Linked DNA regions of Homo sapiens. The protein of the gene in region 2 interacts with the protein of the main gene of each other region in a biochemical or structural test. Each region holds a gene or a part of one and is shown on either strand. Other genes may lie near its edges.

What was found.
Region 1: the proteins of MPP1 (region 2) and CYSLTR2 interact in a test that uses a peptide from one of them, tested with the Homo sapiens proteins (one large-scale study listed by IntAct).

Annotation. Positions count from the first base shown.
Region 1 is NC_000013.11:48,660,240-48,664,063, reverse strand, and holds part of CYSLTR2 (cysteinyl leukotriene receptor 2), read right to left. Parts: intron 1-3,824. UniProt on the Homo sapiens protein: Receptor for cysteinyl leukotrienes. The response is mediated via a G-protein that activates a phosphatidylinositol-calcium second messenger system.
Region 2 is NC_000023.11:154,791,670-154,795,493, forward strand, and holds part of MPP1 (55 kDa erythrocyte membrane protein), read right to left. Parts: intron 617-3,824; coding exon 473-616; intron 179-472; coding exon 100-178; intron 1-99. UniProt on the Homo sapiens protein: Essential regulator of neutrophil polarity. Regulates neutrophil polarization by regulating AKT1 phosphorylation through a mechanism that is independent of PIK3CG activity.

The DNA.
Region 1 (3,824 bases), on a different chromosome or scaffold from region 2:
AAAATCTTTTGATAAAATTTAAGCTCACTTCATGATAGAAACTTCTTACAATTAGGTATAGAAGGAAAGTACTTCAATATAACAAAGGCCACATGTGACAAACTCACAGCAAACATCTTACTAAATTAGAAAAAGTTGGAAGTTTTTCTTCCAAGAACAGGGACAGACAATGATGCTTACTCTCACCACTCTTATTCAATATAGCACTGGAAATCCTAGTCAGAGTCATTAGGCAAGAGAAATAAATAAATGGCATTCATATTCAAGAGAAAGAAGTCAAATTGTTCCTGTTTACAGATGATAATCTCATATATAGAAAGACTCTACCAAAAACTCTTAGAACTAATAAATCATTCAATAAAGTTGCAGGAAACAAAATTAATATACAAACATCAGTAGTGTTTTCTACACAAACAATGAACTAGCTGGAAAAAAAATATCAAGAGGGCAATCCCATTACAACAGCTACAAACAAACAAAAAACAACCTTAGGAAGAAATGTAACCAAGGAGGTGAAAGACCTCTACAAGGAAAACTACAAGACACTGATGAAATAAATGGAAGAGGATACAAACAAATGGAAAGACAACCCATGCTCATGGAGGAGAACTAATATTGTCAAAATGACAACACTATTCAAAGCAACCTACAGATTCAATGCAATTCCTATCAAAATACCCATGACATTCTTCACATAAATAGAAAAAAGTTCTAAACTTTGTATGGAGCCACAAAAGAACCCAAATAGCTAAAGCAAACCTGAGCAAAAAGAACAAAGCTGGAAGTATCACACCACCAAACCTCAAAATACACTACAGAGTTATAGTAACCAAAATAGCATGTTACTAACAAAAGCAGACACATAGGCCAATGGAACAGAATAGAGAATCCAGAAATTAATCCAAATATCTACAGCAAACTGATTTTTGACAAAGGTGCCAAGAATACTCATTGGGGAAAAGACAGTCTCCTGAATAAATGGTTCTGGGCAAACTGGATGTCTATAGAAGAATGAAACTAGGCCCAAACCTCTCACTCTACAAAATTTAACTCAAAATGGATCAAAGACTTAAATATAAGACCCAAAATGATAAAAACTACTAGAAGGAAACATGGGACACACATTTCAGAACACTGGTCTGGGAAATGATTTTGTGAATAAAACCTCAAAAGCACAGGCAACAAAAGCAAAAATAAACAAATGGGATTATCAAACTAGAAAGTTTCTGCACAGCAAAGGAAGCAATCAACAGAGTGAAAAGATAACCTACAGAATTTGAGAAAATATTTGCAAGCTACTAATCTGACAGGTGACTAATATTCAGAATATACAAGGTACTCAAACATCTCAACAGCAAAATATTCAATTTTAAAATGGGTAAATGATTTAAACAGACATTTCACAAAGAAGACATTCAAATGGTCAACAGGTATATGAAAAAATGTTCAACATCACTAATCATCAGTGATGATTTTGCAACTCAAAACCACGATGAGGTATCATCTCACCCCAGTTAGGATGGCTATTATCAAAAAGATGAAAAAACAAATGTTGGCAAGGATGTGGAGTAAAGGGAACTCATGTGTTGTTGGTGGGACTGTAAAGTAGTATAGCCACCATGGAGAACTATATGGAGGTTCCTCAAGAAACTAAAAGTAGAATTACCATATGATCCATCAGTCTCACTTGTGGGTACTTGCCCAAAAGCTTTGAAACCAGTTTGCCTAAGAGATGTCTGCACTGACATGTTTACTGCAGCACTATTCACAATAGCCAAGTTATGGAATCAACCTAAGTGTTCAACAACAGATGAATGGATAAAGAAAATGTGGTATATATACATAATGGAATACTATTCAGCCATAAAATGGAATGAAATCTTGTCATCTGTGGCAACAAGGGTGGAAATGGAGGACATTATGTTAAGTCCATTGTATTTCCTAAACCAGAAACAGAAAGTCAAACACCATATGTTCTCACTCATATGTGGAATAGTAAAAAAAGTTGATCTCATAGAAGTAAAAAGTAGAACAGAGGAAACCAGAGGCCTGGAAGAGTGGGGGAAAGGGAGAGATTTGGTAAAGGATACAAAATTACCACTAGATGAGAGGAATAAGTTCTAATGTTCTATACCACTGTAAGATGGCTCTAATTAACAATAATGTATTAAATAGTTTCAACTAGTTCAAAGGAGGATATTGAACGATCCCAACAAAAGGAAATGATAAATATTTGAGATGATGGATATGCTAATTACCCTGATCTGATCAATATACATTACATGTATAGAAACATCAATATATACCCCATGAATATGCAATTATTATTTGTCAATTTGACAAATAAATTAAAATAAATAGAAGTGTTCACAGGAGACAGTTGGTGTAAGGTAGCAGGCCACATCTGCCACTTACTGGCTGTGAGATTTTGCAGAAGTGACCTATCTTCTCTGAGCCTCAGTTATGCCATCTATAAATGGCATAATAAATGTGAGTTGTCTCATACAGGGTGAGCGCTCAGTGATGTTAACTATTATTATTAAACCTCAGAATTGGGACCTAGAACAAGCATTAAGGAGGCAAAATTTTTGCAGGGCACTAGTAAATATATAAAAACAAGGCTGAGAAATGATTTAATGATAAAAAATGGTGAGAAGCATGACAGGTGTTGCTCTCAGCTGCAGGGAAGCAGTAACAGAGCAGCAACCTCAGGATTTAAATCCTGATTTGTTCACGGACTACCTCTATGACCATGGGAAAATGACTTTATCTCCCTCGGCGTCAGCTCCTTATCAGTAAAAGGGGGTAATGCGGCCAGGCAAAGTGGCTCATGTCTGTAATCCTAGCACTTTGGGAGGCTGAGGCAGGAAGATCGCTTGAGCCCAGGAATTCAAGAGCAGCCTGGGCAATAGAGCAAGACACTGTCTCAATAAAAAAGAAAAATTAAAAAAAAAGATTAATTTAAATAAATAAATAAAAGAAAGGGGTAATGCTAATAATAGTTCTTACTTCATAGGGTTGTAAGGATGAAGTGAGATAATACATGAATGGCACTTAGGTCAGGGCCTGGACCAGAGAAAGTGCCATATTAAGTGTTAGCTGTTGTTATTGCAAAGGCTGACAGAATAAGCTCTCTGAAGTTGTGCAGAGAGGATTCTGCAACACATTTGTTCCTCAAAATCCCAGAGGCCTCAGAGTGCTGAATTAACACGGCCCTCCAGAACAGGGAAGTATCACTGAGAGTTTACTCTTGAGACCCAAGCTGACAACTCAGAGTTTATTTGTAACAGGCTCCAAATGTCATGTCAGAAATGCCAAGCTTTCTAGACCTTCCTGGCCTTCCAAGAACGGTCTTGTGCTTTCAGAATTTTTTTTTCAAAAAGTCAAGGTGAATTAAGTTCTTGGAGATCAAAACAGAAACACAGATAAAAGGAACTGAAATTGTGACATATTTTGAATGTGAAACGGAGCTGGTCTCTGAGCTTCCAGAGGAAGTGGGATGGAGGGGAATGAATCTCACAGGGCCTTGTTTTCATGGACTCAGTGCCTTGGAGAATTTTGCTGCACTGATTTTTCCTCTACCCGGTCACCCACAAAGTGCCTCAAGGAGCCCCCAAAGTATGAGTCACTTCATTGGCCACCAGGCTGGTGACCCTTTGCTTTCTGAATGCCATTTATTTCCACATGCCACTTAACCATGAAGTCAGCACTTTGGGCCATTGGTGAAGAGTTTTCTGGCAGATCTACTGTTATCTCCCAGAGAACAACTTATCCCCAGGGATGTAGCAGGGATTGAAACCTAGCAGAAGTTTGGCATCCAAACA
Region 2 (3,824 bases):
CCAGTTTGGAGGATTATAAGCTTCATGCCCCACACCACTGAACAGGGAGTAAATTATTAATCCCTGAATCAAACCCCACCCAGAGCTCCCACAGAGTACCTTGTCTATGGATCATGCCACCATGAAGAATTCTGGCCACCGTACAGGACTGTTTTTCATTCAGCTTCAGCGTGATTCCCTGAAATAAAGGCGACGGCACAATAAGCTTTATTTTAAGCTCTTTCTGAGGTTATTTTAGAAAGAACTTACGGTAATTTCTCAGGAAAATATTTTCCATTTATACCCAGGATAGTCCTCAACTAGAACAGGCATGAAGCCTGCTTTGAGGAGGAATTTGAGATAAGAATGAAAAGACAATTTTGGGGTTGGCCAATTCCCTAACTCCATGAGCAGCCTCTTGCATTGACTCTTCTGGCCCAGTGACTCATGGGGCAGAGAGTAACTGGTGGGCGACAATATGACGGGGGATTACCATGGGCTCTTCTGTGACCTTCTCAAACTGTATGAGTCGCACTTTCCGCACCTCCTGTCCCTTGACCTGGGCAGGGCTACCTGGGGCAGGAGACCCGTTGGTGTACATGTCCTCGGTCACAGTATTCAATGGATGCGATACAGCCTGCCAAGCCAAAACAACAAAGCAACGTATGAAATCAGGAGCAAGGCCCACAGCCAGTCCACAATCTGCAATTCTAACATTCAAGAGGCTCTGAAAACTTATTTCATAAGTTTGGCCTCATTCTTATTTGAATTGACATGAAGCTGTTTGTAAGCTTTATTTCTCCAACTTAATAGACATGTCAGCCAAGTGTGGTGGTGTGCACCTGTAGTCCCAGCTACAGTCCCAGGGCAACAGAGTGAGACCCTGTCTCTAAAAATAAATAAAATAGACATGTTTATCTAGGTTGCTGCAGAAATATTAATGTGCCTTGATTTACATGGTGCTCTCCTGGATCCTGCTTGGGGTATTACATAATATATAACAAAATTAGAAAGATTCTGAATCCTGCGGCACCTCAGGCTCCAAGGGTTTCTGGCATGTTCTCTTCTCCTTTGTATTTCCTTGAACAACCTGATGCTCTCGGTCACACAGCAATAAAGGTAATTCAGGTTAGCATCAGTTTCTCATGAATCACCCCTTAGGCTACAAAGAACTTCTACCTGTAGAATTAGGCACTTAGGACTGGGCCCCGAACCGCGGTGATAACAATAATACATTGCCACTGTGACTTCTTCCCCTGATCTCAAAGACAGCAAAGCTAAATGAGTTACTCTACCAGGCAGCAAGGCCTCTTTATTATAAATCTAAAGTAATTTAAGGCACTGTGGTAAGAAGAAAGACAAACGACCCATGTAATGGAACAGAGAGTGCAAAAACAGAGCCACACATTTATAGTCAGGTGACACTGCAGTGCAGCGGGGAAAAATGGTCTGCACGATAAATGTCATAAAAGGTCCCGAGTATAAAATGAAAACTAAAAAGACAAACACTTTAAAAGTAAGAAGTCTATTCATCAAAAAACTCCACTGAGATAAGCATAGATTTAGTAGACGAGACACGGAGCAATCATCATACAAGCAAACAACTGACTTCATCAAATTCAAACATCTTACATAAGAAACTAGACAGGTATGACACAGCCTGAGAATAAACATTTGCAATATTTACATCTGACAAAGGATTTGTATCCAGAACATATAAAGAACTCTTACAATTTAATAACAGGATGAAAAGAACCATAAACAAATCCTGAACTTGAGCCAATGATATGCATGCTGAAGCTTTCAGGGGTAAAGTGCTCTGATATCTGAAACTTATTTTGAAATACCAGGAAAAAGAAGGTGGATAGATGGGCAGTTTTTGGATAGAAATGTGATAAAGCAAACACAGCAACATGTTAACTGTAGAATCTAGGAGGTGTGGCTATATGGGTGTCACTATAAAATTCTTTCATCTTTTTGGCGCCATTCCAAGAGCAGCCAGTACTCTTTAAAAAATATTATAAAATTTAATTTTTGAACCATTTGAGAGTAATCTGAAGACTTCATTCTCCTTTACCCATAGATGTCTCTATATGTTAGGAACGAGCATTTTCAAAACTGAAAATTTAACATTGACACAATATTGTCATCTGCCAACCCTTTCAAGAATGTCCTTTATAGCTATATATTTCTTCCCCAGTCCAGAATCCAACCTAGGACTTTTTGGTCCCAGAATCCAATCTAAGACCAGAATCCAATCATGCATTTCACATTTCCTTACTCTTCCTTAATTTGGAAAATTTCCTCAGCCTTTCTTTTTCTTCTTTCATGACCTTGACATTCTTGAAGAGTACACACCTGTTATTTTGTAGATGTCTCTCAGTTTGGGGTTATCATCTGATGTTTTTTCAAGATTAGACTGGGATTTTGCATTTTTGGCAGGAATTCCAGGAAAGTAGTGGTGTGCCCTTTCCAGAACAACACTACTCTTAAAAGCCCAAACCTGAAAATAGCCCAAAAGTCCATCAACAGTAGAATGGATAAACTGAAGCATATCCAAGTGGATACCCTACATCAATGGCAATGAATGGCTACTGCTACACCACTCCATGGTAGATCACCTGTGGATCAGTCTCACAGGTGATCACTCTCTTCTCCTTAAAATGCTCCTTCTCAGTTTGCTTTGCTGTTCTTTCCTCATCTTACTGATCTGGGTAAGAGCAATCACAATGGGGAAAAACTATGGAAACCTCTGAAAATGCTCCCTGCCCACCCCAGATAAAATATTAAATCAAAAATGATATAGCCACCTGGAGGAGGAGGAGGAGGACGAGGAGGAGGAATAGGCCTGAAGTGGGCTTATGGAAGGGTCTGCTGAAAATAGGGGATAGCTGCATTCCAGTCACACCCAGAGGTGACCCTCAAAGACAGTAGGGAGGGAAGATCTTCCCAATAGGCAGAACTGTGAGGAGTGTGCCATTCACTGTGTGGGGAAGGAGAAGGGTCCCTAGATGGGAATAGATGGTATGCCTGAGCAGTGTCCACTGGCCTGCCCAAGGCCTAGAAAAGGACTAGAAGATGAGAGAGAAGGAAGTCTGGAGTAGAGGCTTACATCATTTCTAAGGGACTCTGATTTCTAAGTAGAAACTTTGATAAGATGGTGAGGTTTGGGCCAGGTGCAGTGGCTAACACCTGTAATCCCAGCACTTTGGGAGGCCAAGGTGGGGAGATCGCTTAAGCCCAGGAGTTTGAGACCAGCCTGGGCAACATGGTGAAACTCCTGCCTCTGTAAGAAATTTTAAAATTAGCTGAGTGTGGTGGTGCAAGCCTGTGGTCCCAGCTACTCAGGAGGCTGAGGCAGGGGGATTGCTTGAGCTCAGGAGTTGGAGGCAGCAGTGAGCCATGATCACACCACTACACTCCAACCTGGGCAACAGAGGAAGACCCTGTCTCAGAAAAACAAACAAACAAACAAACAAACAAAAAACATGGTGAGGTTTGAAGTAGTATTCGCTATCAGGTGACCTCAAATGAGGGAAGTACTGAGAAAGAGAAACTGCCTTCTCTAGCAACTAGAACTTCAAAAAACTCACATGACACCAAGTCATATGGCATTGCTGTTATAACAAAATTGTCTAAGATAGGCTTATATTTAAAAAATTGACTTATGATACCCGGGATACACCATGTAGGTAGGAAAAGGAGGTTCTGAGGGTGATCTTGAAGATTTATTGTTAAGCAAAAAATAATAATAATGTGATGAAGGGTATACTAGCTTCATCATAAACAGTGAAAGAATGATTATATTCATATTTGCTTAAAAATCCATAAACTGGCCAGGTTCA